Linked DNA regions of Homo sapiens: regions 1, 2, 3, 5 and 6 are each linked to region 4. The links come from fine-mapping of genetic effects on gene expression. A gene starts in region 4. Each other region holds a variant in brackets. All regions are shown on one strand. Distances are between the middles of the regions.

Region 1 (5,478 bases), 26 kb before region 4:
AGTAGAGACGGGGTTTCACCATATTGGGCAGGCTGGTCTCGAACTCTTGACCTCAGGTGATCCACCTGCCTCAGCCTCCCAAAGTGCTGGGATTACAGGCATGAGCCACTGCACTCAGCTTAAATAGCTAATATTTAATATTATTCTATAGTTATTCAAGTAATTCAGGCCAAAGACTTAGAAACAAAACAAAAAGCCACTTTTAAGGAGAAAGGGTGTAAGTTTGCCAGATAGATAGAGATCTTTCTTTTTTAACTACAAGAGTTCAGGAATGAATTACTCTTTAACAAACGACTATAGATATACATGAAAATTGGAAGGACTTATTATGCATATGATAATCAATTTAAAGACAACACTTAAAATTATATTGTTGCCACTCTCAAAAAGTGGTAATAGAACAGCTAATGGTTTAAAAAGCAGAGTACAGAAGTTCCCAAACTTATGGCACCTTAATATCGCAGAAAACTTTTTAAAGCATGCCTAGGCCACAAAAAATACCTGTATTTTGATTATTAAATTGTAAGGTCTACACAACCTAATAGTAATAGGTCCAATAGTAATGCTGTCCAATAGATGTTGATGTTTTTTTCCTTGCAAACTTAAAAGATCCTACAGTGCCTCTGTAAATAGCACTGCCTGGTTAGAGTTGAATTTCAGATAAATAATTTTTTTCATGTTAATTATTTTTCTTTTCTTTACTTTTTTTTTTGTTTGTTTTTTTGTTTTTTTTTTTGAGACAGGATCTCATTCTGTTGCCCAGGCTGCTGTGCAATGGCATGATCATGGCTCACTGCAGCCTTGACCTCCCTGGGCTCAGGTGATCCTCCCACCTCAGCCTCCCAAGTAGCTAGCTGGGACTACAGGTGCTTACCATCATGCCCGGCTAATTTTTGTGTTTTTTGTAGAGATGTGGTTTTGCCATGTTGCCCAGGCTGGTCTTGAACTCCTGGGCTCAAGTGATCCGCCCGCCTCGGCCTCCCAAAGTGCTAGGATGACAGGCATGAGCCACTGCACCTGGCCCCTGTGCGAAGTATTTCTTAATGGTTACATAGGACATACACTAAACATTATTTATTGTCTATATGAAGTTCAAGTTTAACTAGGTGCCCTGCACTTTTAGTTGCTAAATCCTGTAGCTGTACCCATGCATTCACTGGTGCTCCCCAGCTTGCCTTGCACAGAGTTTGGAAACCATAGTCCTATAACTCTAGGCCAATTTTTTAATGTAAAATTTGATTCATTTTAAATTAATAAATCATAACAGGAATTTTTTTAAAAATTGTTTTAAATATAATTAAAATTATCAAAATATTTTTTAACTGAACTTGTGACTAGAGATATTTAGATTATGAAGAGTGGGGTTTATGCTAACTAATGACAGTCTGGCTATGCATGTGGAGCACTGAGCTATAAATTGTGGCTTCCCCAATTCTCCTGATGTCACTTGAACAAAACCTAAGTGTCAGACCAGAGCTTCTGGTATCTTCCATGGGATTTCATTCAACAGCTGGAGCAAATGAAGTCAGATTGATTTTTTTTAATTTGTCCAATTTTGTTGTCTCAAAAACATAATTATAATCATTTATTAGAACTAGAATTTCTTCAGTTTAACAACAGAAATAGTTATTCATTATGAAAAGCGAATCTGGAGGCCTTCATTGTGGTGCCAATCTAACCATTAAATTGTGACGTTTTTCTTTTAGGAAGCTCTGTAGATGTGCTATACACTTTTGCAAACTGCTCAGGACTGGACTTGATCTTTGGCCTAAATGCGTTATTAAGAACAGCAGATTTGCAGTGGAACAGTTCTAATGCTCAGTTGCTCCTGGACTACTGCTCTTCCAAGGGGTATAACATTTCTTGGGAACTAGGCAATGGTGAGTACCCCAGGGAACAATTCATTAATAAGGAGATCCCCCACTAGCATTATTTCTTTTCTTTTCTTTTTCTTTTTTTTTTTTTTTTTTTTGAGACAGAGTCTCGCACTGCTGCCCAGGCTGGAGTGCAGTGGCGCCACCTCGGCTCACTTGAAGCTCTGCCTCCCAAATTCACGCCATTCTCCTGCCTCAGCCTCCCGAGTAGCTGGGACTACAGGCACCCGCCACCGCGCCCAGCTAATTTTTTTTTTTTTTTTTTTTTTTTTTTTTTTGCATTTTTAGTAGAGACGGGGTTTCACCGTGTTAGCCAGGATGGTCTTGATCTCCTGACCTCGTGATCTGCCCTCCTCGGCCTCCCAAAGTGCTGGGATTACAGGCGTGAGCCACCAGGCCCGGCTAGCATTATTTCTTATGACACTTTTTTTTTTTTTTTTTTGAGACGGAGTCTCGCTCTGTCGCCCAGGCTGGAGTGCAGTGGCGCCATCTCGGCTCACTGCAAGCTCCACCTCCCAGGTTCACGCCATTCTCCTGCCTCAGCCTCCCGAGTAGCTGGGACTACACGCACCCGCCACCACGCCCGGCTAATTTTTTTGTATTTTTAGTAGAGACGGGGTTTCACCGTGTTAGCCAGGATGGTCTCTATCTCCTGACCCCATGATCTGCCCGCCTCGGCGTCCCAAAGTGGTGGGATTACAGGCGTGAGCCACTGCGCCCGGCCAACACTCTTTTTATTATTAGCAAATATACTTCTGCCTGGGCACATTCTTGCAAGTGCTCAACAATGCAACTTTTGGAAGTGCATGTGGCAGAAACTCCTACTGTATTTATTCCAGAACCTATTATTGCTAATCCCAGTTTATGTTACATTTGAAGTGAGAACCAGTTGGAGCCAGCAACGTTCCCAGCTCCAAAGTTCCCTTGAGATTTTCAGAATCACTTAACCCTATTATGCTTGGCAAGCTGGACTCAGCAAAACTGGGAAGTCAGCAGTTTGTTTTATTCATCCCTTCCTTTCTCATTTTCTCAAATGTGTCAGTTAATCTCAGTAACCCCATTGCAACCTTCATTACCTGCCCAAACGGTCTAGAACTTGCCAGTATAGAATCCTACGTGGGTCAAGCTCCTGACTGTCTCCTTCTTCACTCTTTTTTTGCAAAGAACTTGTAAATTTTAACTATAAGTATTCATGATTCGCCACATTTATTCAAAACATAGAGTGCTTTTTCCACATATCAGCCAATGGAAATAAGGATTAAATGGGAAATGAAATGTAGTAATAGG[A/T]TAAGCACAAGTCTTCTTCCTGCTCAAACTTTTTTTTTTTTTTTTTTTTTTCAGACAAGATCTTGCTCTGTTACCCAGGCTGGAGTGCAGTGGCGTGTTCATAGCTCAATGTAACCTCCAACTCCTGGGCTCATGCAATCTCTCACACCTCAGCCCCCTGATTAGCTAGGACTACACTATGCCTAGCCAATTTTTTTTCTTTTGTCTGGTTGTGTTGCCCAGGCTTGTCTCGATCTCCTGGCCTCAAGTAATCCTCCTGCCTCGGCCTTCTAAAGTGCTGGGATTATAGGCATGAGCCACTGTGCCCGGTCTCAAACCTTTTTTTCCAAAGTAAATGAAGTTATTAGATATGGAATATAGTCTAGTTCCCAGATATCCATATCCATTGGTTTATTACCCTCATTATTAACTTCAAATTGTTTAATAGACCCTCATATCTCAGTTATACAGTTAAAATTTTTGTTTTGTTTTTCTGGAGTATCTTATTTATAACTTTGAGTTTTACTTTACTTATTTATTTTATTTTTTGAGACAGACGCTTGCTCTGTCACTCAGGCTGGAGTGCGGTTGCGTGATCATGGCTCACTATGGCCTCGACCTTCTGGGCTCAAGTGATCCTCTCCCTCAGCCTCCCAAGCTGAGACTACAGGCATGCACCACCACATCTAGCTAATTTTTTTTTTTCCCCATGGAACAGGGCTTTACTATGTTACCCAGAGTGGTCTCAAACTCCTGGCCTCAGGGGATCCTCCTGTCTCAGCCTACCAAAATGCTGGGATTACAGGCATGAGCCATAGCGCCAGACCTGGTTTTACTTTTCTTGACTTTGAATTACAAGTTTTTGTAATTTGGAAAATGTTTTGTTGCTTTTAAATACTGCTATATGTTTGCTTTTAAATACAACATTTCTCGATATATATTTTGAGAATTGCTGTCTTTCAGAACCTAACAGTTTCCTTAAGAAGGCTGATATTTTCATCAATGGGTCGCAGTTAGGAGAAGATTTTATTCAATTGCATAAACTTCTAAGAAAGTCCACCTTCAAAAATGCAAAACTCTATGGTCCTGATGTTGGTCAGCCTCGAAGAAAGACGGCTAAGATGCTGAAGAGGTAGGAACTAGAGGATGCAGAATCACTTTACTTTTCTTCTTTTTCCTTTTGAGACAGAGTCTCACTCTGTCAGCCAGACTGGAGTGCAGTGGTACAATCATGGCTCACTGCAACTTCGACCTCCCAGGCTCAAGCAATCCTCCCATCTCAGTCCCACAAATAGCTGGGACTACAGGTGCACATCACCACACCTGGCTACTTTAAAAAAATTTTTTTGTAGAGATGGGGTCTCCCTGTGTTGCCCAGGCTGGTCTCTTGAATTCCTGTGCTCAAGCCATCCTTCCACCTCAGCCTCCCAGAGTGCCAGGATTACAGGCATGAGCCACCACACCCAGCCACCACTTTTCTTAAAAAAAAAAAAGATTCTCTCTGGTAGACAATCCTCAATAGTCCACATGTTATTAAACAATCTGCTGCCTGAATACATGATTTACCAAAAAAAGGAAATTTTGACGGGTTCAGAATATCAAGGGATCTGAGGCAAATGTCACCTATGATAAAATTTGCTATCAAAATTAGGAAGTTTGTGTTTACCTGATCCTAAAGCAGTAACCAGCCCATTTCTAGGGAATAAAACTCTCATGCGTATATTGTGCATATATATGTATTATATGACTGAGTGATAATAAAATTTTTTTTCTAGCTTCCTGAAGGCTGGTGGAGAAGTGATTGATTCAGTTACATGGCATCAGTAAGTATGTCTCCTATTCTTAATACTAGGAAAGTAAGGCTAGCTTTATTTATTACCTAGTATTCAAAAAGTTAGTTCATTTAACTGCCAATTGACTGCAGTTCAAATAAGAAACAAATAGTGTCTCAAGTAGCACTGTACTCCAATTTTAATATTAATAAAAAAAATTTAAAGTTATTTTAAATAATGTAGTGGTTTCTATAAAGATCACTTTATACAGAAGAACAGTGCCAATTAACCCATGGAACATATAAGTAGCTAAAACCAATTGCTTGCCAAAGAACCAGTAACCCAGGAGTACATGTACTTGCCACTGTGTTTTTTCAAGACAGAGTAACTGATTTCTAGTTACTTGCATAGAATGGACTCCTCCTCATAACTCCCTTCCATCTTGGTCTTTCCCTAGTAGAACTTCTACCTTTTTTTAGTAACAGGTGAGTGGGAGAGGTAAGAAGGAGAATAAGGTCAGCAATTAACCTAAAAGCAGAAAGTAAAATTTGTTATTTTTTTTCTGA
Region 2 (5,478 bases), 43 kb before region 4:
TAATCTGGCGTGTATTATTTACAGCACTTCTCAGACTATATTTCTTTCTTTCTTTTTTTTTTCCGAGACAATTTTGCTCTTGTCACCCAAGCTAGAGTACAATGGCGTTACCTCGGCTCACTGCAACCTCCGCCTCCCGGGTTCAAGTTATTCTCCTGCCTCAGTCTCCCAAGTAGCTGGGACTAGAGGCATGCACCACCACGCCTGGCTAATTGTGTATTTTTAGTAGAGACAGGGTTTCACCATGTTGGCCAGGCTAATCTCAAACTCCTGAGCTCAGGTGATATGCCCACCTCGGCCTCCCAAAGTGTTGGGATTACAGGCGTGAGCCACTGCACCCGGCCTCAGATTAACTATATTTCAAGCGTTCAGTAGCCACATGTAGCTAGTGCTATGGTAGTGGACAGTACAGATCTGCATTTCAATTAAGACACGTATACAAGCATAGTTCACTAATGCACGGTAAAAAAAAGTATAGTGCTGAGTCGGTGGTAGAAATCCTAAATACTGCAGAGCAAAAGTGGTACGAACAGCAATCTCAGTGATAATGCAACCATGCTTGCTTTTCATTGCAATTTGCTTATTTTCCTTCAGCAAAGTTCATCCATTTTTGCCAATTCAATAAATATTTACTGATAAAAACTTTCAATATTAGATTCTTGCATCTTCATAGACAGAGTTGCTTTTCACATTTAGAAAATTACTTATCAATGTTAAACACACGTTTTGATAACCAGTGTTGGAAAGAGGTGCAGACTCCCCATGTGCCTATTGATGGCAGAAATATTCACAGCCAAAGGGAAACAAAGGGCTGGGGACAATCACACACCTCATGTCTCCTAACTCCTGGGAAGTGCTGTCCCTCTGATTGAGCTCTTATTATTGCCTTCCCCACTAACCCTGTCCACTGTGCCCTGGAGCCCTTTGCAGGGTTACCTGCTCTGTCCTCCTCACAGAATATCTCCTCTACCTCCTTGTCCAAGCTACAACTTGGCTATTCTCTGATGACACTGTCTTCCCTGTAGCCCTTTTGAGTAATGGCTGCATATTCTCCCATAGTCCAGTTCTTTTCCTGTTCTCCAGTCTGGCTTCTGGATGACAGCCCACTAGTTTGAACTCCATACTGCTATAGTTCAAGTCCCTTTTGACTTGTTACCTTGGGCAAATTACCTCCTTTTGTTCAGGTTCCTTGTTTGTAAAATGACGATAATAATGCCATTTGCTTCAGTGGGTTATTTTGAAATTGAGTGAAAGAAGGCGGGTAGCTTCCCTACACGCTCAGTGTAGACTAGCCTGATGTGCATTACGGGTGATGCCATGACTCAGTGTGTTTTCCTCATCTCCACATCTGGCTCTCATCCAGTGCTCCTGCTTACGGCACTCTGTCCCCCTCTTACTTACTCCCCCTTATTAACTGAAGACTGGCACTGATCTCACAGTTTCCTCTCCACTTCCTAGTCTCACCATCATCCTAGATGACTTCAAGTCACCTAGATAAACTGTCTCAGTTTCTTCACTCACATTTTTTTATAACAGATAATGTTACACTCAAGTTGTAACAGAACCAGCTTATCCAGCTCATGAAATGTATGCATTTCATCTCAACTCTGTATTCAGTGACATCCTGTGGGTATCTGGAAATCAGCCATGGTGAGAATATTTACCATGGAAATTGGCAAATACTAAAAAGCAGAGCACCTTTTTTTCTGAGAGCCAGACCATAGCTCTTCTACTCCATAGCACCCATCATAACAATTTTTAAATACCTCCACTGAACAGCTTCTTCCTCTCTCTACTTCTTCCATATCTGATTTGAGCTTCTTAATTTATCATGTGAACCACTCTTGTAATAATAACCCCAAATCCCTGTTCCATTGTTCTTCCTGCTAAAATACTAAACCTGGTTTAGTCCAACCATATTTTCTCTCTTTGGAATCTACAGGGTGGCCCAAAAACCTGGAAATGGAAAAATATTACTTATTAATTTTAATGTATATTAATAAGCCATTTTAATGCTTCATTTCCAGTCTCAGTGGCCACCCTGTATAGCTGGGCTATTGAGCTCTTGCGGGAGGAGGGAGTGGACAGTCTCCCAGCCACACAGACTGATGTTGCACCAAACATTTTTTAGCTTCCAGACTTCCCTGGCCCTTAGTGTTACCCTTAACTCTCCATTTCTCTGCCTTTCACATTCTCTACTTTTTAAAAATCTCTGACTCCACCTTCACCTTATCATTCTTAGCACATGACCATACTTCTGCTTCCCAAAGAAAATGAGCAATTACTTCCTTTTCCTTTTCCTCCTGTCATCAAATCTGCAGACATGTCATGCCTAAGTCCAGCTTTCCTCCTTTCTCTGATCTCAGTCTGCTTCTTCCATTTCTGCCCTGAATCCCGTCCCCTCCCCAACCCCCAAGGACTTCGCTCTATCAGTCACCTCTTCCCTCTCCTGTATCTTCAACTCCTCCCATTTTACTGGCTTCTTCCTCAAGCCTTTCCCCAAGCCTTTCCCCAAGCCTTTCCCATCTCAATTACCTCCTCGCACATGCCTCTGCAGAAACCACCCCGTTTCTTCCCTCCCCTCGGC[A/GGCA]GCCTGTTCTTCCTGTTCTGCCCTCATGATGGCACCATCATTGTGTCACTAAAATCAATCTCTCCGACATCATCAATGGCCTTCCTTTGTTGGGAAACCTAATAAACACTTTATCTTATTTGGTCTTTGTTATGGGTTGAATGAGGTTACCCCGAAATCCATATTAGAAGTCCTAACCCCCAGTACCTCAGAATGTGACTTTATTTGGGAATAGGGTCATTGCAGACGTTATTAGTTAGGATGAGGTCATACTGGAATGTGATGGGCTGCTTATCTAATATGACTGATGTCCTTATAACAAGGAGAAATTTGGAGACAGACACGCACATAGGGAGAATACCATGTGATGACAGGAGTTATGGAGTTGGAGTCAAAAAGCTATGGGAACTTAGGAGAAAGACCTGGAACAAATCCTTTCCTGCGCCTAGAGAGGGAGTATGGCCCTGCCACTACCTTGAATTCAACGTTTCGGCTTTTCAAAACTGTAAGACAATACATTTCTGTTGTTCAAACCAATTAGTTTGCAGTACTCTGCGACTGCAGCCCTAACAAACTAATACAGTCTCTTGGAGGCATTTGGCAAGGTTGACAATGGAAGCACTTTCTTACCCCTTTAGGTCTGTCGCCTTTCTTGTTGGGGGGTGTTTTCTAACAATTCCTCTCCATCTCTCTCTCTCTAGTTTGTCTTAAACATTGGTGTTCTTCAGACTTCTGACCTAGGCCTTCTTTTCACTTCACATATTCCCCTGGGTGGTCTCACCCACTTCCAGAAATTACTTAAATTACTGCTCATGCAGTACTGTGCTGGAAACTGTTTAACAACTGGCTCTCTGGGAAGAGGGGAGACTGGTTGATGGTTTTTGCTGATTTCTGTGGTGTAAATACTCCCTCCATGGCCAATTCCAAACTGCCAACAGTTTAACAACTGGCTCACAAATTTTCTCCAAATTTAACATTTGGCTTTCACAGGCCAACAACGTGGTACAGCCAACTCCAGCACACCTCTGCTTTTGTGTCAGAGAGAAGTAACTTATTTTTGTACAAAAGGTAAAATAAAAACACCTGCAGGCCCCCTTTTTTTCCTTAACAAACTGCTCTAGAAATAGAATAGCTGAAGCTTCTTTTATGCATTCATCTGTTATTTCCATGTCACTGTGGTGGTGGGATTATTTTTCCTTTATTTTTCTTGTATATGGTTGAAATACTGTACCTTTGATCAGTTTTAGTTTTATGGCATGTTTTGCACCCATATTAAATCTAGTTTTTGTCAGAGGGCGTCAATATTATTTTCTCAAAACAAGAAAATATTTCATTGCAAAGGAGACAAACAAAAAGGTCCTTAATACCAAAACTTTGAAATGTGATTTCTTGTACTTGGCAGTGTCCAAGTGGTAAACCCAAACAGTATTGGGTTTTCATTTTGTTCAGGAAAGTCTTTGTCTGGCAGCGACTTACCCTTACATCAGGCGGGCCTTGCTCATTCATTCACTTAAGTATTTATTAAACACCAGCGGTGTGCCAAGTACTTATCTAGGTATCGGGTAGATTCTGATAAGTCAGTCAGGTCCCTGCTCTCAGGGAGCTTGCAGCAGAGATGGGGGCTGCAATAGAGAGTAAGCCAAGGAAATGAAAAAGGAAGTTGATTTCAGAGAGTGATGAATGCTATGAAGAAAATGAAGGCAGCGCAGTGTGATGGAGAGTGACCCAAGGTGGTACAGTTTGTACCTCTAAGGACCAGGCTGTGACCCAGGTCACTCACAGATGCCCGTCATGTGATGCCACAGCAACTTTTCCAGGTGCTCGTTTCCTCCCACTTCCCAGTCTCTTGCCCAGCCGCGACTGCTTACAAATACAGCTAGAGGAATCTAAATGAGGTTCCTCTATCATCAAACCCAATCAAAATGCCAAGGAACAGAATCAGTGCCTGGCTGAAGGCAGTGGAACAGGGCCAGCCTGGAGTGGTTCTCTCTGAGGAAGTTCCTCATCTTGGTTTTAGGGCCATACCTTGTGACCTGTGAGCTAGGGGTTGCCAGTCCCTGACATTTCTACTGAGGACTCGCCTGTCTATATTCCCGGCCTGTATGTGTCTCCTGAGTTCCAGACACACAGGGCGAAGCGCCTGATGGATGGAAGTATGTTTTTTGGTGTTCCATTGGTATCTCAAATTCTACAAAACTTAGTGCCCCTTCTCCTCCCTGTTCCTCCCCATCTTCAGTCTATCACCTGTTCCTCATCCAGCAAATGATATTACCATCTTCCAAGGAGCTTCCCAGGAGTAATCCTTGACTCCTCCTCAACATCCAATTAATAATCAAATCTAGGCCAGGTACAATAGCTCATGCCTATAATCCCAGCACTTTGGGAGGCTGAGGCAGGTGGATCATTTGAGGCCAGGAGTTCAAGACCAGCCTGGCCAACAAGGTGAAACCTGTCTCATTTAAAAAAAGTTATTTTAAAAACTCAAATCTATTATTTCTACCTCTAAGTGTGTCTTGAATTTATCCATCTCTCTCCATCTCTGAGCTGTTACCTTACCTCAGTCCATCACGTTTTGTCTACGTTAACATGACCAGAGTCTTGTTCTTAGTCTGGTGAGGTCACTCCAGCTGCTTCAGATCCTTCCATGGCTCACCGTTGCCCTCATATAAAGTTGGCACTCCTGGACATGTGGCTTACGGGGCCCTCCGTGATGTGGCCCTATTTGCTTCTCCATTCTGTTCTCTCCCAGCCTCTCTGCCCCCATCTCTAGGCACCAACCACACCCTTCTGCTCGTCAATGGTGCCAGCTTCTCTTCTATCTCTGGTCTTTGGACAGACTTTTCCCTTCACCTGGAATGCTTTCTTCAATCCTACCCCACTCTCTTTAATCTAGATAAGGTTTATTCTTTTTG
Region 3 (5,478 bases), 620 kb before region 4:
TTTTTAAAAGTTAAGCAAGATATGGACAAAAAAAAAGACAAAGAAAAGAAATGTTTCTGATCTAGAAAATTAGCAAGAAATCTCAGAAATCAAGCTGTCATGCTTCTTGGCACAACATAAAAATAAGCAAACAAACAAAAGGAGAAGAGGGAGTTCTATAAAGTTGCACAGCTATCTGAACCAAGGCTCCTTCTAACATTCTCAAAAAACTAAATTAACATGAAAATGAGCAGCAGGAATGTATTGAAGTCTATATCTTAGATAGTTACTATAAGAGAAAAGATAAATAAGAAACAGAATAACATCCTTATAGTTCAGGTCTGCCCAATAGAACTTTTCCTGGTGATGGAAATGTTCTATATCTGTGCCATCCAACATAGTGGCTCCTAGACACATGTGACTATTGACTAATGAGCCCAGGGAACCAAATTTTAACTTTATTAAATTTTAACTAATTAAAATGTAAATAGCTATATGAGGCTAGTTGGTACTATATTGCATAGCACAACTATAGAAAAGAAAAGCATGCCAGAAAAAAAATTTCAAAAAGCAATCAAAACTGTAACATAATACTTCAAAATGATTTAAAGTCATTAAGAAAGTAATACAATATGACAGTAACATAAATCAAAATTAGAATAATTGACTGAGATAACACTCAAGAAATAATTAGAAATTAAGAAACAATTATTTTAAAAGTGAAGACTTAATTAAAAGAAAATGAGTAAATAACAATACTTTGAAATAAATAGAAGAAAAAAGGAGAAAAAAATTAAACATCAAAAGCAAATGAAGAAAGAGATGAAAATGATGTGGGAAAAGAGAGAAATATTGAAGCAGTTAAGAAGACCCAACACACGGATAATATGAATACCTGAAGAAGAAAACCAGTATTGATAAGCACTAAAACAAATTCTCAAGAATATAATTCAAAAACAAATTTCTGAAATAAAAAAGACTTGAAACTACATATTGAAAATGTACAATATATACTTGAAAATATAAACCCAGAATAACAAAAAGCAAGAAATAAATATTCTTGTAAAAGAACAGGAATTTAAAGAAAAAATTCTTTTGGAATCTGGACTAAAGAACATATGACTTACATAATTGATTGGATTATTAGTCTGTCATTAGACTTTTCAACAACAGTTTATCCCAAAAGAAAACTGAATAACTGATTTAAAACACTCAAGAAAAAAAGTGCACCAAATATTTTATATTCAGAAAAACTAACATTCAAATATACAGGAGACAGACAGCAAGCGATAATAGTTCAGTTTCTATTCTCCTCACGAGTACTTCTCAAGGAATCTACTACAGAACAAGCTTCAAACAACCAAGATCAGTAGAGACTGGTGAAAAACATTAAGTATGTAGCAATTTATAGAATTAAGTGAGGATTAAACGGGAGAAATTATAGTATGTAATGGCTATGTGATCTAATAATACAAATCCAGTAAAATTATTAAAAACTGTGGGGAGTACAGGACTAACATATATAAAACAAATGATAACCTGTTTTCAGTTTTTTTAGAATTGGCAATGGTAGTATTAGTATTGTTGTTCTCACCCTATTGTATGTATACAAAAGGAAAACAAATAATTATGGGGTTTCCTAATTCTATTACTCCTGTGCCCTTGAGAACTAAAATTCTTGGTGCAGAATTCAGAAGACAAGGATATAATATAGATCCAGATAAATTAAAGCACACTAAGCTTAAATATAAATTGGAAATATTGGTATGAATTTATAAGTATTTTGTGTGTTTACACTAAAAATATTTATTTCAGTAATATTTTATATTTTTGTATTTACATAATACAATATATAATGCATATATTATTCATATTATAAAGTGCGTATGTGTGTGTCCTAGCTCTGTCCACTGAAAAGGCCAAGAAACAATGATCAACCAAGTAGAAATAAGGCTCTCTCGTACTTAGGCTGTGGTTTTGAAAAACCATCTCTATAAAAAAAAACAATCAAGCAGCAGAGCTTTTCAAAATATAGCTGTTTTCAGGTCAGCATCAGAAAATGTACAAGATGACCCTGAAACATCTTGACATATCAAATGGATAGCAAAGAGTCCATGTAAGATTACTAGGGTCATGGCAAAAGGTCTCAGAAATCAATTCCTCAGGATCTCACTGGCCAAAGATGAAACAATGTAAACTCGAATAAGGATAAGCAGTCCAACAGATTGAAAACCAAGAAATACATTTAAATTATGTTTGAAATCCATGAGTTCATATGAACCAATTGATCTTAAATTAAGTAAAAAGACAGCAGTCTGTCACTAGATAAACAAATGATAGATAAGGGGACTCACCTCCTTTAAAATCTTCTTCAGCGAATAAGAAAAAACAAAATGATAGAAAAACACTCTTTTTTAGCCCCCAGTGAAGGAATACATTTAAGTATTGAGACTTAACAGCCGCTGACATCACAAAGAAACAAAAACCAGATTTGATATGTCTCTCAGTGAAGTGACACAAAACCAAAGGGATCAAGCCTGAGATGCAGCTGACAACGTTTAGGAAATCAAAGTGGTAGAGTAAGTTATTAAATTGTCCCTTGAGTGTGCCATTAGCAAAATCTAGACTGCAGGTAACTCTGCAGCTAAGTAACCCAAGTCCTTCAACAGGTAAGTTATGAGAAAGTGAAAGGGTGAAGGGGGCCTATAGGATAAACAGGACTTAAAAGAGACGTCAAGTTAAAAAGGAATGGGCAAGATTAAACTGTAGTATCCAAGGACTGATACTTGAG[T/C]AATAAACCATAAGGAAATTCAAGTAAGTAAAAATAGGGACTAACAGAAAGTAAGAGAGGACATTGTAATTAGGATCAGGTACCTAAAGGAACTTCTGTAGTGACTGGAAATATTCTGTTTCTTGGCCTGAACAGTGGTTACAATGATCATTGGCTCAAAATAATTCATTAAGCTCTACACTTGTTTTGGATTTTTTTTATATCTATGTGCATGTGTGTGGGAATTTTAGGCATGGATTTTCTAGAAGAATAGAAGGAACTTGAGTTTGACTATTTCCACCCTTTCTGCTAAAATGAGGTAACAAGATTTGATCCTTTGTTAAAGAGAACTTTATGGAAGATAAGACCTTAAGTCTCATCATGGTTCCACCATTACCTTCTGCAAGACATCATGAAACACTCAATGGCTCTAGTCTTCAGGTTATCTTCACCATAGCCAGGCAAACAAGGCCTGCACCATGTGGCTCAGGAGAACATTTTCAGCCTCCACTTCCATTCCACACAACTGCCAAGCCTCTCACTTCTGTTCATCATTATCCAAACATGTCTCCATATCTCTCCCTTTATGATTTCCTTAATTGTCCTTATTCTCATGCCTTTAACCCATTACCCTTTGTAATCTACTTCAAATGTCACTTCTCGGAACTCTGAGTTTAAGCTACTTTTTCCTCTGTGCTTCTAGACCACTTTGTATGTGTAGCTATTGACATAGGAGTTACCATATTTCTAACGTTGTTATGTCTGTACTCTCACTAGACAATGCGGTTCTCAAGAGCTGCATTTTCAAATCTGCAGTTCTAGTACAGAGGTTCTAGAAACATTGAATAAATGGATGGATGCATGGATGGATAGATATATAAAAACAAGAGGAGGTAGTAGAAATATTAAGTTACTTTAAAATCTAACATTTTATGATTCTTTTTTCACATTAGGTGATAGGCAGCCTTTGATAAAGTGAAGATCTCCTAGGACTTACAAATTAGTAGGAACAAAATATCATGCTGTGCTCCTGCCTCATCTGAGGAACTGGGATGTTTTCTCCTTGCAAACGCTGCAATGGATAGTACTTCTCTGGTCCTTACCATTGTATAATGACAAGTTTAGTGTGTGTGTGTGTGTGTGTGTGTGTGTGTGTGTGTGTGTGTGTGTGTGTTTTGCTTGCACCACTGTGGCTTCCTTCTTAGCTTTATGGAAATAAATGTCCATTGAGGATAAAGAAAGAAGAATTAGAAAAGAAACAAAGGGTAAAACCCAAGCCTGGACTAAATGCATAGATACAGTGTTAATCTTCATACTGGGAAGAAATGAAATTTGAGATGAAAACACAGAGAATAAGAGACAGATGCTGGTTTACATTTATTTACTTTTCCTATACCAGTCACTCAATCTAAGTTTCTTCCTCCCTACCTATGCAAATGCAGTGATGCATAAATATTCTCCCATGAAGAAAGTTACTAGTTTTATGTAACTAACTTCATTTGAAGTACCTGTAATTAGTGCCTGTAGAAGCCCATTATACATATTAAGAAGGAATCATAGTATTTAGACAAGAAAAACATAACATGTACATTTGGATAAGGACCAAATTTCCTTCAATAAGAAATAATACTATTCCCTCTGCTACACATAAACTACATTTTAAAATTCTCCTTCTGCCGAGCTGTAGTATATTACATGAACCTTACAATTTCTGCAACATTTCAATTGTTTCCTTATTTTTCTGGCCTTTTCTTGTTACTTGTTTAAAAATCTCCTTGCATTGGCCTCCTGAGCCTGTTGGAGTAATATTATGAAGCAAATGACCAGACATAATGACTTTCCAAGGTCCTTGTGCTTCCTTATTAACATTCAGGTAGCATAAGTCCTGACTTTATTATTGACTACATTGAATACACAAGACACTGACCTCTGCCATCTGCAACTAAATCTCTTCCTGCAGATCTATTGGAATGGTTTCATATATAGAGGAAGCAAGAGAAAACAAAGCAGCAGCCACTTATCTTTTCTGTCCCTAGAAACTTTAACACACTCACATCTGCAATCCAAAAAAGGAAAGAAAATCCCCCTTGTAAAATCTAGAGTGAGGGTTAGAGGAAAAATTCAAAATGGCAATCCCAGATTCAGATTCATCTTCCTACACTAAGACCACTAAATAAACAGAATCAGATATATCTGGCCACTAGAAAGCAAAATCACCAGCATATGTAATTGATTACTGAGTCTCAAAATCAACTGATAGGACCCAAGGAGTATTTTCATTAGGTCATGATCACTTTAACTTGTGTAATTATGGGAAAGTCTGCCAATTTAAGATTGTTTGACATTTCCACTTATCCCCACACAAAAGGATTGATGACATTTTCTAAGTAACGTATGAAATAGCAAATTGTCTACCTTGGTCTTGAAGCTATTGGTGAGTCTCAGAAATGGAGCCCAGAAGACAACAAGGACATGATGTACTGAGTTTTGTTCTGAAGACCTAAACTTGAGTCTTGATTCTGCCACAAACTGTGTGGTGGAAAGTGACTCCAACTCCCTGAATCTCAAATTTTTTAACTTGACAAATAAGAGGATAGTAGATAATCTCATGCCAACATGAGCCACTTATGTAGGAATTTATCACCATTCCTTTCTTTCCCTCCTCTATTAAATTGGATTTGCCTTTCTCACATTAGAGGAGCATGTAGCCCAATATATCTTTGCCACCA
Region 4 (5,328 bases):
ATGGGGACACAGCCAAACCATATCACACCTTCATAGAAACAACCAGAATAATGGTTTACTTGTCTAGTTTTTTTGAGACAGGGTCTTGCTCTGTCACCTAGGCCAGAATGCAGTGGTGTGCACTGCAACCTTGACCGCTCGGGCTCAAGTGATCCTCCTACCTCAGCCTCCTGAGCAGCTGGGACTAAAGGAGTGCACCACCAAGCCCAGCTAATTTTTTTAAAGATTTTTGTAGCGATGAGGTCTCACTTTGTTGCACAGACTGGTCTTGAACTCCTGGGCTCAAGCAATCCTGCCTCAGCTTCCCAAAATGTTGAGATGACAAGTGTAAGCTACCAACCTGAGCTTCATAAGCCTCTTAACTAATATCCCTACTTATCTCACTGCTTGCCTACAGTTTACTCTCAACCCAGTATTGAGAGTAATTATTTAAAATATAAGTCAGTATGAGACAAGAACTATGAGAGGAAAATAAAATAAAATAGAAGTCAGGTCATGTCTCTGTTCTGTTCACAATCCTCCAATGGCTCCCTCTTATTTCACTTAGAGAAAAGCCAAAGTCCTTACCACGGTATGTAAGACCCCACACAACCTGGTCCCTAGTCCTCTCTGCTCTCATCCCTGATCTCTCTCCCTTTTGCTCACTCTACTCTATCCACACTGGCCTCCTTGCTCTTATTAAGAAAACACTTCAAGCTTGCTCCCATCTTAGGGCCCTTGCACTAGACATCCCTCTAAGAGTATCTAGTGATATTCTTCCCTCAGATCTCTCATAGCTACTCCCTTATCTCCTTCAAGTCTTTGAGAAAGTGAGATCAGGGCTGTCCTACCACCCCAATTACCATATTTAAGTATACATACAGCCTGTCCCTACTTTTCCCTGTTACTCTTCTTTTCTCCATACCACTTACCACCTTCGAACATACTGCAAAATCTATTTGATTACCTTTTTCAGTCCTTGTGATGTGGGGAGGGGTTGTCTTGTTTCCAAAGCCTTGTCAGTCATTGTAATTCATTCTTCTGGCCACCATAAAAAAGATGAGAGGTTTATTATTTGTTTTTTTGAGACAGGGTCTCACTCTGTCACCCAGGCTGGAGTGCAGTGGCATGACCATGGCTCACAAAGCCTCAACCTCGGGGGCTCAAGCAATCCTCCCACTTCAGCCTCCCAAGTAGCTGAGACCACAGGCATATGCCATTATTCTCAGCTAATTTTTGAATTTTTAGTAGAGATGAGGTCTCACTATGTTGCCTAGACTGGTCCTGAGTTCCTGGGCTCAAGCAATTCTCTCACCTGGGTCTCTCAAGTGTTGGGATCACAGGTGTGAGCCACAGTGCCTGGCCAGAATAATTTTTGACCAAATGTTTTGGCACTATGGCCTAGCCAAATTGACATGTAAAATTAACCATTTCAGTTCCTGTGGGTAATAGGTTTAAAACAAAATGAGTTCCTGCCCAATCCAAAATGAGGAATTGGCGTTGTGTACATGTACCCTAAAACTTAAAGTATAATAATAATAAAATTTTAAAAAAAAAGAAAGTCACTTCAAAAAAAACAAAAAACAAAATGAGGAATCGGAGCCTTACAGGCCCTTTTAGAGAAAGCCTAGTCCCTTCCTTTTCTGAAGAGTTTGCAGCAGTTAAATGGCTTTCCCAAGGGCATACTGTGCCTTGGCATTAGTCTAGAGGAGACTCCTGAAAGTTAGGGCTCTACTCTATGTGACTGTTCTCTTGTCCTACAAATTAGCAGAGTGACATGTGGGTACCCATCTCAGTTTCCTGTGCACTTTAATTGGACCAAATATCTTAGGATTGAATCACCTCTGGGCAGGGTCAGCATCATGGGTACATGTGCAGTCACCCAGGGCCTACGCTAAGAAGGACCTTGTACTTGGTTTAATGTCCTGCTGTTGCCATCTTGAAATTCTTAATATATTTTTTTAAACAAAGAGTTTGGACCTATATTGGAAAGTCATGGATGCAATACATGACTGATATTACACCCTTTTCAGGTTTGAGTCAGATCTAAATCATCTCCAATCTAACAACTAGGAGTGTTACTAAATTGCCTGCTGGCCTTTATTCTTTGCAGGCAGGAGAAAGGCTAGGTACCCCCTGCCTCATTGCACCAAAGTGGCCAGGCATCCAACTTGCTGTACTTGAGCCATGCAAGAAGTCACAGAATCATTGTACATGTTTTACAGAAAGGAGCCTAAAGACTAAGTCAACTTCCTAGAATATTAAAATCCAGATGAGTGACTTGCCTAGGGTTACTCAGTGAGAGGTTAAATGAGTTGATACATGTAAAGTGCCTGGCACACAGCGATATACAGAGTTGCTTATGAATAAGAGTACTGACCATCTGAGGCAGGAGGATCTCTTTAGCCCAGCTGTTCAAGACCAACCTGGGCAATATAGTGAGACCTCCTCTCTATGAAAAATTAAAAATTAGCCAGCCACGGTGGCTCGTGTCTGTGGTCCCAGATATTTAGAATGCTGAGATGGGAGGATCGATTGAGCCCAAGAGGTGGAGGCTGCAGTGAGCCATGATCCCTCCACTGGTCTCCAGCCTGGATGACAGAGCAAGACTCTGCTGACCAGACTTTTCAGCTTCAGGTTCTTAGCATCACACATGCTGGTTGTCTACTGATTACAAAAACTCCTTTGAAGGGCTGTCAAATTTAAAATTTTCACTTGTGTAATGAACATCCCTTAACCCTGAATGCGATTTTAATTTACAGTCTTGTATGTGGCCACTTGGTGCCCTTTTTTTTTTTTATGGCTAAACGTGTACGCAAATTCTTCTTTTGGATTCAGTAGGTTTTTCAAAGCTTTTTTTTTTTTTTCCTGGTACAACTGTTCCATATGAATAAACACTATCCTTTTCATTTTATGGAGAAAGCTGATAATAGGGTTAAATTATAGGGGGCCATTGTTTTGAACTAAGTTCCTGCACTAGGTCCCAACAGATCAGACTAAGAATCAAGAGTCACCCATGCTAAAGTTCCAAGTCACCAAACTAAAACTAAGTTGTATCTGACATTCTGAGAAGTCAGGAAAGAGAGACAACAGCCAATTTTCCAACCAGGCCATTTCAAAATGCAATCGTCATGACAATTAAGTTTCCTGTTTTAGTCCTTAACCTGGTGTAACCTAATGTTAACCAATCCGTTATTTCTCTGTTGTTGTTTCCCTGTCCCCGCCTCGCAATGAAAGTAATTTGAAGTGACCAATCCGCTTTTTGTTCTCTGCTTCTGCTTTCTTCAGCCCTTTTTCTGTCTATAAAGCCAACTTCCTCCGCTCGACTCTTTGGAACACTTATTCTATTTTACAGAATAAGGTGTTGCCCGATTCTATTTTTTGTTTGTTTCCTCAGAGACCCCGTTCTGAGTGTTGCCCGATAATGGAACCACAAAGTCAATCAAGATCGAGTTGTAAAAAATTACAACTAAATTTATTGTAATTTTTTTGCCTTTTGCCAATAGAAATCCCTTTTTCATTAAGTATTCCTCCCTAGAGTAAGCGACCACGATGACCCCAATTTCACAAGTAAGGATGAGGAAAGGTTCTGCCCACACCGCCGCCCAGCCTGGCAGACTAGGATTGCATCCTGCGGGTGCCACTGCGCATGCCTGCCGGGGAATGACGTCAATCCGAGCTCGTCCCGGCCTCACCAGCGCCATGCTGGGCTCGCGAGCCGCGGGGTTCGCGCGGGGCCTGCGGGCTGTGGCACTGGCGTGGCTGCCGGGCTGGCGGGGCCGCTCCTTCGCCCTGGCGCGTGCGGCAGGCGCGCCCCACGGTGGTGACTTGCAGCCCCCCGCCTGTCCCGAGCCGCGCGGGCGCCAGCTCAGTTTGTCCGCGGCGGCGGTGGTGGACTCTGCGCCCCGCCCCCTGCAGCCGTACTTGCGCCTCATGCGGTTGGACAAGCCCATTGGTGAGTGCGGGCGGGCGGGCAGCCCGGGAATTTGCAAGTAGCAGCCTCCGAGTCGGCTCCGCGGAGCTGTCCGCGGCGGCCGGCCGGGGCGTGATGGAAATGAGAACCTGAAAGCTTGGGCTTGGCTGCCGGGTGCCGTGCGCCCTGGGGCGAATCACCTCGGGACACTTTGAAATGAGAGCCTGAAAGCTTGAGCTTGGCTGCCGGCTGCCGTGCGCCCTGGGGCGAGTCACCTCAGGACACGCAGTCGGGACAGTCTCCTAAAGGACCCGCCAGTTTCACGTCTGTCTGCATCCTGAGCACCTGAAGCGGGCAAGATAATTCTCATTCCACAAACACTTGTTTAAATGGTGACTCAAGCGGAAGGTTCCGTTCTCGTGGCCCTCCTTCATTTATTAGAATGTTTGATCCTCCCCGCAATCTTGTAAGGCCCACAAAGACAATCCTTAAGACAGTTAAGACGCTGAGGAAACTAAGGCTCCTCGTCAGAGCCAGACCAGAAGAACTCTGTGTTTTGATGCTGAGTCGGAGCTCTTTTACCTGCATCACCCATAAGGCAAAGATTTAATTCATTTGAACGCAGCAGGGACAGCGCTTACGGACTGCCTGTCAGCTTACAATCGCCCCCGACAGAAAGATTTTCCTGACCTTCCTATCTTAATTAACACCTACCAACCTCACTTTCTATCGCTTTATCCGCAATTTTTCTTAATAGCACTCACCACTAACTAACCTTATGCGCTTGTTGATTGATTGGCTTCTCCAGTAGTGTTAAGTGAATTAATAAGTTCCTACTACGTTGTCCGGCCATAGAGATAGAAAAAGCTATGGAAACCCTTTGCTTTCAAGGAACTCTGGTCTAGTTGAAAAAGACTATTTGGTGAGCTAGGAAAATATGGATCAAATATGAGTGATACAAAAGCAAGTGCTACAGGAAAAAGAGAAATTACTGTGGATCCCTTGCTGGAAAGTTTCGAGAAGAAATTATACTCCAAAGGACAAGTTGATTTTGCAGAGGAGGGAAGAGATCTTAGTGCGGGAAGTACTTTTGCAAAGACCCAAGGGTGGAGTGTTAGAACACTAAGAATACGAGCCTGACCTGGAACACCAAGTGGGTGTGGAAAATGGGAAACGAGACTAGACAAGAACATATCTGAAGAAGCTGGATAGCGTGGAGGAAGAAGTGAAGGATGAACTCCAGCCAATCTAGATGATGACATTTGCCATTGCAGTGTATGGAGATGTAGTCAAAGGCCTAGGTACATTTACTCCACTTTTGCCCGTACAAGACCCGAATTAGGCCTTGCTTTTGGTATTCTAGATTTATGCACGACCTATTTGGGATTAGAGCACTAAGTTATAACAATCAGCTATCAAAGCATAAAAGCCTACTG
Region 5 (5,478 bases), 37 kb before region 4:
AGCTACTAGGGAGGCTGAGGCAAGAGAATCGCTTGAACCCAGGAGGCAGAGGTGGCAGTGAGCCGAGATCATGCCACTGTACTCCAGCCTGGATGACAGAGACCCTGTCTCAAAACACACACACACACACACACACACACACACACACACACACACACACACACACACCAAGTTGTATAATTTAAAATATAACGTGCTTGTTATGGAACACTTGTAAAATACAGGAAAGTAATGAAAAAGTCTACCATCTAGCTCACCACATAATGACCATTGCTATCATCCTGGCATAATTCTCTCCTGTATATAAATATATATTCTTTTATTGTTAAAATTACACTATGAGTACTATTTATTTATTTTATTGTGGCAAAATGCGCAAAACATAAAATCTTGCCATTTTAAGGTATGCAGTTTGGTGCATTCACCACACTCACATTGTTGTGCAAATATCACCACTATCTATCTCAGAACTTCTTCGTCTTCCCAAACTGAAACTCTGTACCCATTAAACAATAGTGCATCCTCTGTTTTCCCCTCCCTACAATTTATTTTTATTTGGGTTTGTACCAAACTGAAAATAGCTGCTTCTTCCTTACTTAGTTCAGATTAGCATTTCCATTTATTTAGCCGTGGTTTTGAGGATGCCATGACAGATGCCATCCTTCCTAGAGCTCTTTGGGGCTGTCAGGTATTTCAGTCAGGGTGAATTCGGGTTGATAACATTTTAAAATCTCACTTTATTCTGAGGTTCCTAGTGTCAGAGCCCACCGTATTTTTAGGGACTCCCAAGTTACAAACAAAAATATGGTGAGGAGGAATCACTGAAGTTTTAACACAAGAGACTTACATTTTGTTCAATTTCTATCTTTTAGTTTATTTCCTAAGCATAAAGAAATACTTTGAAAATTTTACATAGCATTATACATATTTAATTAAGCATGAGCACATCTTAAAACTTTAAATTTTAGATCAGATCTTTAATTCCTAGGATATTAAGAGGTACTGGCAATTTGGCCAGGTGTGGTGGTTCACGCCTATAATCCCAACACTTTGGGAGGGTGAAGTGGGCGAATTGCTAGAGCCCAGGAGGTGGAGGCTGCAATGGCCTGAGATCACGCCATCGTACTCCAGCCTGGATGATGAGAATGAAATCCTGTCTCAAAAAAAAAAAAAAAAAAAAAAAAAGAAGAAGAAGAAGTATTGGCAATCAGTGCTCCAGGAATAATTTCCTGACTTGAAATAAACCTACATGTAGACAAACTAATTAGGCCATTCCAAGAGTTGCTAGCATTGGTTTAATATGTTTTCAGAGCATTCCAGGAAGCAGTGTGGCCAGCATTGCATGTTTGATACTTCAGAAATGTATGACAGGTGTTTCTCTTACCCAGGTCTTCTGTTTTCTTAGTTTTGCTCATGTAAATATTTATGAACATCCTCATCTTTTTGAGGGAAGGGATTATAGATCATTCTAATTCCATTTTCTAGCATTTGGTACCATTCTAAGCACATGATAGGCACCCATTTGGAGCATTTTTGGCTTGACAGAATATGCATTTAGAATTGTTCAAATTAGAGGTGTCAGTGATGGGAATTAGAATACTATATAATTCTAAGTCATTTGACTTAAATACAAAAGAATGATTTTCCTTGGTGGGGAATGGTGAAGGGAGGCAGGAGTTAAGAAGAGGAGAAGAGATCCTAAGTCATTTATAAACTTCTCTGGAAAGACAGGTGTGTGAAGACTTTTTAAAAAGTCATTCACCAAATTGTGTGTGTGTGTGTGTGTGTGTGTGTTTTAAATAGACTTTATTTTTTAGAGCAGTTTTAGGTTCACAGCAAAATTGAATGCAAGGACAGAGATTTCCCATAAACCCCCTGCCCACACACATGCATAGCCTCCCTCATTATCAACATCCCCACCAGAGAGGTGTTTGTTCTAGTTGATGAACCTACACTGACACATCATTATCACCCAAAGTCCATAGTTCACGGCAGGGTTCACTGTCGGTGTACATTCTATGGGTTTGAGCAAATGTATAATGACATGTATCCACCATTATAGTAACATACAGAGTATTTTCAGTGCCCTGCAAATCCCCTGTTCTCCACCTATTCATCCCTCCCTCTCTGCATTTCCACCCCCAGCCCCTGGTAACCGCTGATCTTTTTACTGTCCCATAGTTTCGGACGATCTATTTTTCAGACAGACACAGAGCTGTCTTTCCCTTAGTTTCTATTCTATCATTTCTTTCTCCCCATCCATCATAAAAGGCTATGAGTTTTTTTTAAGTGTTGAACACCATCCTACTTGTCAAGTTAAAACATAAGCTCCTGGCTGGGTACAGTGGCTCATGCCTGTAATCTCAGCATTTTGGGAGGCTGTGGCAGAAGCATCACTTGAAGCCAGAAGTTTGAGACCAGCCTGGGCAACATAGCAAGACCCCATCCCTCCACACACAAACACACACACACACACACACACACACACACACACACACACACACACACAAACAAGCTCTTGCCAGAATTAGAGCTACAAATTGCCCTCAGGTTCCTAGAAGATCAGTCCTTCAATTAGATTCAGATTGAGATGCTTCCTCTTTTAAACAATGATTCCCTTTCTATCATGCCCAATAAGAAAACAAATAAAAATTAAACAATACTGCCTGTAATCTCAGCTACCCAGGAGGCAGAAGCAGAACTGCTTCAACCCGGCAAGCAGAAGTTGCAGTGAAGTGAGATCGCGCCACTGCACTCCAGCCTGG[A/G]AAACAGAGCAAGATTCTGTCTCAAAAACAAAACAATGTGATTTCCTCCTCTAAGTCCTGCACAGGGAAATGTTAAGAAATAGGTCCACCAGGAAAGAAGGAAGTAAGAATGTTTGACTAGATTGTCTTGGAAAAAATAGTTATACTTTCTTGCTTGTCTTCCTAACAGTTCTCCAAAGCTTCGTACCTTGGCCAGAGGCTTGTCTCCTGCGTACCTGAGGTTTGGTGGCACCAAGACAGACTTCCTAATTTTCGATCCCAAGAAGGAATCAACCTTTGAAGAGAGAAGTTACTGGCAATCTCAAGTCAACCAGGGTGAAAATTTTTAAAGATTCACTCTATATTTTAATTAACGTCAGTCCGTCATGAGAATGCTTTGAGAAAACTGTTATTTCTCACACCTAACAATTAATGAGATTAACTTCCTCTCCCCTCATCTGACCTGTGGAGGAATCTGAACAAGAGGAGGAGGCAGTGGGCAGGTTTCCTTATCATGATGTTTGTCATGTTCAGTGTGAGGCCTCACAAAAAAAAAAAAAAAAAAAAGGCGTCCTGGATATAACTGAGAGCTCATTGTACAGTAAATATTAATAAAACAGTGATTGTAGCTGAAGGATAGAACTGCTTGGAGGGAGCAAGTGGGTAGAATCGCGTCAAACTAAAGAGCATTTCTAGCCAAAGACACAATGATAGATTGAAGGATATTTATTCTAAATATAGAATATGGGTGAACGAGATCTGTGGACTTCTGGGCTCCAACGTTAGATTCTGATTTTAGCAAGCTTGTCAGGGGATTCTGATATTGAAAGGCTGTGGCCTTCACCTGAGAAACCTGCCCTAGGGGGCCATGAAAATTTGTCCTGTCTTTCAGAAGTGCTATCAGACATCAAATGGAAGTTAAATCGTATCTTAACAATTACTAGGATGGGCGCAGTGACTCACACCTGTAATCCCAACACTTTGGGAGGCTGAGGCAGGAGGATCACTTGAGCCCAGGAGTTCGGGACCAGCCTGGGCAACATAGAGAGACGTTGTCTCTATTTTTTAATAATTTAAAGAGAAAAAAATACTGAAAATATTGTATACACCACTGAATTATAATAATGTGTATATAACGTATATATTCATTATGAGGAATATTTGATTATTTCATATATTATATCTTTTCCTTCTGTTTATTTTATCCAGTTATGAAGTATTTAGAACAATTCATCAGTAATTGGGGCTAAATTGACAGAATAGTAATCAGAGAAAATAGAAAAAGACAGATGGGTTATCTTTGAATACCAGGTTGGAGTTGTTTATGGGTTTGTTTTTTGTTTTGGGGGCGTTTTTTTAGACAGAGTCCCACTCTGTTGCCCAGGCTGGAGTGCAGTGGCACAAGCATGGCCCACTGCAGCCTTGACCTCTTGGGCTCAAGCAATCTTCCCACCTTAGCCTCCTGAGTAGCTGGGACCACAGGTGCATGTCACCACACCCAGCTAATTTTTTTATTTTTTGTAGAGACAGTCTTTCTATGTTATCCAGGCTGATCTCAAACTCCTGCACTCAAGTGATCCCCCTGCCTTGGCGTCCCAAAGTATTGGGATTATAGGCATAGCCACCACACCCAACCTAGTTTCTATTTAGACTTGGCCCTTTCCCACCAGTCATTTGTGTCCAAAAGATCTCATAAATGTAGACAGGAAACTGTCCTTTGCTCATCAGTTTTCTTCATCCTGTGTCTAGGGGGATGGTCGGTGGGGGAAACTGGGGTTATGCAAGTTCCTCTGAAACATCCTCTGTGAGCCCAGGGATGGATGAGGCACCAGCCGCCAGCGAGTCAGTGTGCAGCTTTCCAGAAAGGAAGTCATCAGCCAGTCAGCCGGCCCTGGCAGCCAGCACCCGGCAACCCTGCTGTCTTGTGATAAAGAAATGGTCTGCCTGACAGGATGGTGTGGATTTTTCTTTTTTCTTTTTTTTTTTTTTGAGACAGGGTCTGGCTCTGTCGCCCAGGCTGGAGTGCAATGGCGGGATCTTGGCTCACTGCAGCCTCTGCCTCCCAGGCTCAAGGCATCCTCCCACCTCGGTCTCCCGAGTAGCTGGGACCACAGGCACACACCACCACGCCCAGCTAAGTTTTCGTATTTTTAGTAGAGGCAGGGTTTTACTATGTTGTCCAGGCTAGTCTCAAACTCCTGAGCTCAAGCTATCCATCTGCCTTGGCCTCCCAAAGAGCTGGAATTACAAGCGTGAGCCACTGTGCCTGACCAGGGTGGATTTTTTCAAGTGCACATGTTGTGGTCCCAGAAGCTCTGATGGTACCAAATTCAAAGCGAAAAAAAGTCAACGGTTCCCACCCATCCTACCTCCCATGATGGCAAGAGGAAAACACCACACTGCAGATACAGTCCATGTAAAACAAATTGCTATGGATTTTGAAAGTGAACCTTAAGAGAACTGCACTATGTTTTCTTCATTAGAGTTCTCTGGTAATTTCCAGCTTTTTTTTTTTTTTTTTTTTTTAGACAGTGTCTCGCTTTGTCGCCCAGTGTCACCCAGGCTGGAGTGCAGTGACGTGATCTCGGCTCACTGCAACCTCCGCCTCGTGGGTTGAAGTGATTCTCCTGCCTCAGCCTCCTGAGTAGCTGTATTTTAGTAGAGACGAGGTTTCACCATTTGGCCAGGCTGGTCTCGAACTCCTGACCTCAAGTGATTCGCCCATCTCAGCCTC
Region 6 (5,478 bases), 26 kb after region 4:
TTCTTTTTCATTTTTCCTCCCTTCTCCCAGTAGAAAACGCTGAAAAAATAATATAAATGGGTAAGGAACAGATTTTTGGAAAAGAAAAAACGATGAAGTAGATTATTAGTCTCTAGAATCACAGACTTAAGACAACTCGAGTTGGAAAGACACACAGCAGTCATCCATCTAGATCAGGAGTGTCAGTCCCTAGGAGAGTTGAAATGAGCATTGCCAGGAGTTTGTGATAGTTGAAATGACCAGCATTGCCGTGGGAATTTATTCAGTGAGGAGGGCCCTTGCCCTACTCTTCTGCTTCAAAGTCACTGTGAGTTTTTCAATAGAAATCATGTGAAAGAACTTTTTAAACTGTGGACAATTATCTACCACAATTTCATGATGGGGGTGGAGATAGGATGGGAGCTACAGGGTCTAAAAAGTAAATGAATACAACTATTCCAGCTCTAACTGACCTGTCCTCTGAATTCCCAGAGCACTTGGTGGGTGCCAGTGGAGCAGGAGCTGTGAATGCCAGTCACAGCCACAGCTTGCCAGGGTTGGAATCTGCTTTAACACCTATCAGTTGGGTGATCTTGGGCAAGTTCCCTGACCTCTCTGTGGCTCACTCGGGGATAATCATAATACCTTTCTCATGCATTTCAAAATTTTCTGTCTTCCCCTGCGAATGGAGATTTCATGGTAAGTGGGACCTTGTTTGTCTTATTCATTGAAATATCCCCAATATACCATATCACAAGGGCTGCCTCTCCCTCTTCCCGGATTTCTTTGCTAAATTGTTTAATGCCTCTACCTGATTTTTATAATCTGGCCTCACCCTAATGTTTCCTCCAACTGAAAGTACACCCTCCACCCTCTGGGTGCCAGTGGAGCAGGAACTAAGAACGCTATCATGACGACAGCTTGCCAGGGTTGGAATCTGCTGTAACACCTGCCTACCAGTTGGTTGCTCTTGGGAAAGTTCCCTGACCTCTCGGTGGCTCAAATACTCAAATAGGTATAATCCTAATACCTTTCTCATGGATTTAAAAATTCTCTGTCTTCCCTTGCGAGAATGGAGATTTCATGATCAGTGGGACCTTGTTTGTCTTATTCATTGAAATGTCCCCAGTATACCACACTGTAAGCACTCAGTAAACATTTGTAATTTTTGTACATCGGGTGAACTAACATTAGAGTTACTTGTCAGACCTGGTGTTAGGTGCAACCATTAGAAATTATTAATGCTGGCCAGTCACGGTGGCTCACACCTGTAATCCTAGCACTTTGGGAGGCCGAGGCGGGCGGATCACGAGGTCAGGAGATCGAGACCATCCTGGCTAACACTGCGAAACCCCGTCTCTACTAAAAATACAAAAAAATAGCCAGGCATGGTGGCGGGCGCCTGTAGTCCCAGCTACTTGGGAGTCTGAGGCAGGAGAATGGCGTGAACCTGGGAGGTGGAGCTTGCAGTGAGCTGAGATCGCGCCACTGAACTCCAGCCTGGGTGACAGACCAAGACGCTGTCTCAAAAAAAAAAAAAGAAAAAGAAATTATTAATGCTGTTCAACAACATAAAAAGTTGACTATGTGAGGTAACGTTACAAAAACATTTTCATGTACATATCATCAAAACTATATAAGAATATAAGTAATGCTGCTGTCTGCCCACCAGGTGGCCTTGCTCTGTAGGAGCAGTCACAACTCTTAACAACACTGGAGCGTAACACTGCCTTTTCGATAAAGCTGTTTTATTCTATCTCTGGCTTGCCCTTTGCCCTTCTTTCCTGGGCAAAGCCAAGAACCCTCGTGGACTAAGCTCCACTTTGGGGCTCATTTGCCCTGTATCAATGGTAACACCTATTTCTTAGGGTTAATGTATAATTTAGAGACTATGCAACACATTTAATATAGGTGCTGGCATACAGTAACTAATTTTTAACTTTAGAAATTAATCAGGCCAGGAATGGTGGCTCATGCCTGTAATCCCAGCACTTTGGGAGGCCAAGGCAGGTGGATCACTTGAGGTCAGGAGTTCGAGACCAGCCTGGCCAACATGGTGAAACCCCATCTCTACTAAAAATACAAAAAAAATTAGCCAGGCTTGGTAGCACACACCTATAATCAATCCCAGCTACTCAGGAGGGTGAGGGAGGCATGAGAATTGCTTGAACCTGGGAGGCAGAGGTTATACTATACTTCTTTTGTAAAATCTACTTTTTTCACTTAATATTTTCCCATGTCATTAATGCTTCTTTCAATATATTGATGTTTTTTGGCTGCATGGGTTTTTATCATATGTATGTACTGCAATTTAATTAATCCTATCATGGATTTTAATATTTACATTTTTTCCTTCTCACAAGCAGTACGGCCATGAATAGATTTGTATCATTGGGCATATCTGTGAATATTTCTGTAGGAAAAATCCTAGAAGCAGAATGTCTTTGTATGTGCATGTACATTTCCAGGGATTGGAGGGTAGGTATGGAGGGTGGAGTATGGTGGTAGGCACATTTTAAAGGATTTGGATTCATTTTCTCAAATTACCCTACAGAAAGCTACACATTGCTAATAGCAGTGCATGAGAGCCTCTTTCTCAGACCTTGGCCAATATGAAAGGATACTATTTTTAAAACTTTGACACATAGGCAAGAACAATATGTGGTTTCACTCACAACTCTGTGATTACTAAAGTAGTTGATCTTTTTCAAAGTGTTTATAGAGCATTTTTATTTCTTCTGTGTGAGTTGCCTTCATGTCTTTGCCCATTTGGTTATTGTTGTTGTTGATGTACGCTGCCTCATTCATTGATTATATCCCCAAGATCTGATATCTGACAGACTTGTGCTCTCATTTTACAAGATTATCGTGTTATTAATTGTGATGGGATTTTGGATTTCATGCTTTATACTGAACTATCTCTTCCATGGAGAAGGTAACATTTAACATTTTTATAGTTGTTCCAATTAATATGTATTATTCAGACAGTCCAAACATTTGTTGAACATCTGTGTGCAGGCACAGGCTAGTTGCTGCAAACACAGAGATTAATTAGAGTTTCTATCTTCAAAAAGCTCAGAATCAGTAGCTGGGATTACAGGCACGTGCCACCATGCCTGGCTAATTTTTGTATTTTTAGTAGAGACGGGGTTTCACCATGTTGGCCAGTCTGGTCTCCACCTCCTGACCTCAAGTGATCTGCCCACCTTGGCCTCCCAAAGTGCTGGGATTACAGGCATGAGCCACTGCACCTGGCCTCTCTCTCTTTCTTTCTTTCTTTTTGTAGAGACAGGGTCTTGCTTTGTTGCCCAGGCTGGTCTTGAACTCCTAGGCTCAAGCAGTCCTCCTGTCTCAGCCTCCCAAGTTGCTGGGATTAGAGACGTGAGTCAACCTCACTCAGCATAAATACTTTTTTTTTTTTTTTTTTT[TTC/C]AAATAAAATCGTACATAAAACCCCAACAAATACGTACAGATGGAAATCAGAGACAGTCCCCTTAAACTGAACCTTCCTTTCTTTTAGGATTGTCACAGAGCCCAAGTTGAAAACTATCTCTTAGAGATAAGAATGAACATTGGAGTCCCTACAGTTACTAACTGAATGACTTAGAGTGAACTATTTAAACCTCTCCAGCCTATCTCTTTATATCTAAAATGGGAATTAAAATAATATCTACCTCATGCTGGTGTTTTAAGAATTGCATGAGAAAATGATCTCATCTAAACTCCTGACTTTAAATGTCATCTGTATACTGATTATTCCCAAATGTGTACCTCCAGCCTAAACTTCCCTTTTGAACTTGCACTTGGCAGAATTGAATATTGAACTGCCTACTTGATATTTCAACATGAATGCCAAATAGGCACCTCCAGTTCAATATGTTCAAAACTGAACTCCTGATCTCAGCCTCAAACCTCCTCCTCCCACCCTTCTTGCCATCTCATTAATGGCATCTCCTTTTCCTTTTGCTCTGACCAAAACCTTGGAATCAACCATGACTCCTTTTTCCCACATTCCATATTCAAGACATTAGAAAAGCATATTGGTTCTACCTTCAAAATACATGCAGAATCTAATCTTTTCCTACCACCTCCACAGCTGCCACCCTGGCCCAAGTCCCTATCTTCTCCCCGCTGGATTAACACATTAGCCTCCTCACTGGTCTCCCTCCTTCTCCCTTGCCCCCTTTCATGTGTCCTCACCATAGCAGCCAGGCCGATCCTGCTACAACCAAAGCCAGCGTATGTCATTCCTCTAACTCAGAACCTCCCCATACCTCCCCATTTCTCCCAGTGTAAAGCCAAAGTCCTTAGCATGGCTGAAGGACCCTCAGTGAGCGGGCTCCTGCTGCCTTCTGGCTCTTCTTCCACTCCCTCCCTCGCCAGTGCTGCTGCAGGCCTTCTGCCGCTGCAGCCTTCTGGCCTCGTTGGGGTTCCTGGAATGCTTTCCTAGATGTTGCCATGGATACTTCCTCACCTCCTTCAGTATTTGCCCAAAAGTCACCGATTCAGTGAAACCATTGTCTTCATTTTCTAAGACTTAACACACACCATTACACAAACTTCTTTTTCTCTCTCACTGCTTTTTCTCCATATTAAAACATATGATATACAGTCATATGTCACTTACAGATGGAGATACTTTCTGAGAAATGCATCATTAGCCAATTTCATCCCTGTGCAGACATTATAGAGTTCATGTACACAAACCTAGATTGTCTAGCCTACTACACACCTAGGCTATGTGGTATATAGTCTATTGCCCCTAGGCTACAAACCTGCGTAGCATACTGTACTTCATGCTGTAGGTAATTGTAACACAATGGTAAGTATTTGTGAATCTAAACATATTTAAACACAGAAAAGGGCTAGGTGTGGTGGCTCACACCTGTAATCCCACCACTTTGGGAGGCCAGGGCAGGAGGATCACTTGAACCCAGAAGTTCAAGACCAGCCCAGGCAACATGACTAAACCCCATCTCTACAAAAAATACAAAAATTAGCCGGGTGTGGTGGCACATAGCTGTAGTCCCAGCTACTTGGGAGGCTGAAGTGGGAGGATTACTTGAACACAAGAGGTAGAGGCTGCAGTGATCGCGCCACTGCACTCCAGTTTGGGCAACAGAGTGAGAACTTGTCTAAAAAAAAAAAAAAAGAAAGAAACACAGAAAAGGTACAGTGAAAATACAATATAATCTTATGGAACCATTGTCCTATATGTGGTCCATCATTGACTATAACATTGCTGTGTAGCACATGACTGTAATTTGTTTTACTTATTTTCTTTGTTGTGTGTCCTCACTAACAAGAACCTAACTTCATGAGGGCACAGATATTTTCTGTTTGAATCATCATACTTTATTTCCAGTGTCTGGAATACTGCCTAGCACATAGTAAATTCTTAAAAAATATTTGTAGAATGAATCACGTATATAAAGCTTTTAACAGCACAGTATGTGATTCATTGCCTTCAGGCATTTTTAGCACTCTTTTTCTTCTCCAAA

Evidence for each region. PIP is the estimated chance that this variant, and not a neighbour inherited with it, causes the effect.
Region 1: its variant is fine-mapped to the expression of COQ2 in whole blood (TOPMed, PIP above 0.99).
Region 2: its variant is fine-mapped to the expression of COQ2 in whole blood (INTERVAL, PIP 0.95).
Region 3: its variant is fine-mapped to the expression of COQ2 in T cells (TOPMed, PIP 0.99).
Region 5: its variant is fine-mapped to the expression of COQ2 in whole blood (TOPMed, PIP above 0.99).
Region 6: its variant is fine-mapped to the expression of COQ2 in whole blood (INTERVAL, PIP above 0.99).

Annotation. Positions count from the first base shown.
Region 1 is chr4:83,309,516-83,314,993 of GRCh38, reverse strand. HPSE (heparanase) reads left to right here. Exons shown (of 12, transcript NM_001098540.3): 4 at 1,707-1,880; 5 at 4,104-4,272; 6 at 4,916-4,963. It overlaps LOC105377313 (a long non-coding RNA gene), which reads right to left and starts at 900. Exons shown (of 3, transcript XR_938944.2): 1 at 875-900. The variant A/T (reference allele first, on the strand shown) is at 3,162.
Region 2 is chr4:83,325,789-83,331,266 of GRCh38, reverse strand. All of the region lies in intron 1 of HPSE (heparanase), which reads left to right. Among named protein-coding and RNA genes, the nearest start is that of HPSE, 6.3 kb to the left of the region's middle. The variant A/GGCA (reference allele first, on the strand shown) is at 2,588.
Region 3 is chr4:83,899,300-83,904,777 of GRCh38, reverse strand. No RefSeq gene overlaps it. Among named protein-coding and RNA genes, the nearest start is that of GPAT3, 370 kb to the right of the region's middle. The variant T/C (reference allele first, on the strand shown) is at 2,771.
Region 4 is chr4:83,283,118-83,288,445 of GRCh38, reverse strand. It overlaps COQ2 (coenzyme Q2, polyprenyltransferase), which reads left to right and starts at 3,648. Exons shown (of 7, transcript NM_001358921.2): 1 at 3,648-3,934. The coding sequence starts at 3,682. RefSeq lists enhancers at 3,516-3,810, 4,006-4,245 and a silencer at 3,616-3,945.
Region 5 is chr4:83,319,821-83,325,298 of GRCh38, reverse strand. HPSE (heparanase) reads left to right here. Exons shown (of 12, transcript NM_001098540.3): 2 at 2,935-3,080. Among named protein-coding and RNA genes, the nearest start is that of HPSE, 12 kb to the left of the region's middle. RefSeq lists an enhancer at 1,869-2,163 and a silencer at 3,707-3,900. The variant A/G (reference allele first, on the strand shown) is at 2,766.
Region 6 is chr4:83,256,918-83,262,395 of GRCh38, reverse strand. No RefSeq gene overlaps it. Among named protein-coding and RNA genes, the nearest start is that of COQ2, 25 kb to the left of the region's middle. The variant TTC/C (reference allele first, on the strand shown) is at 3,408.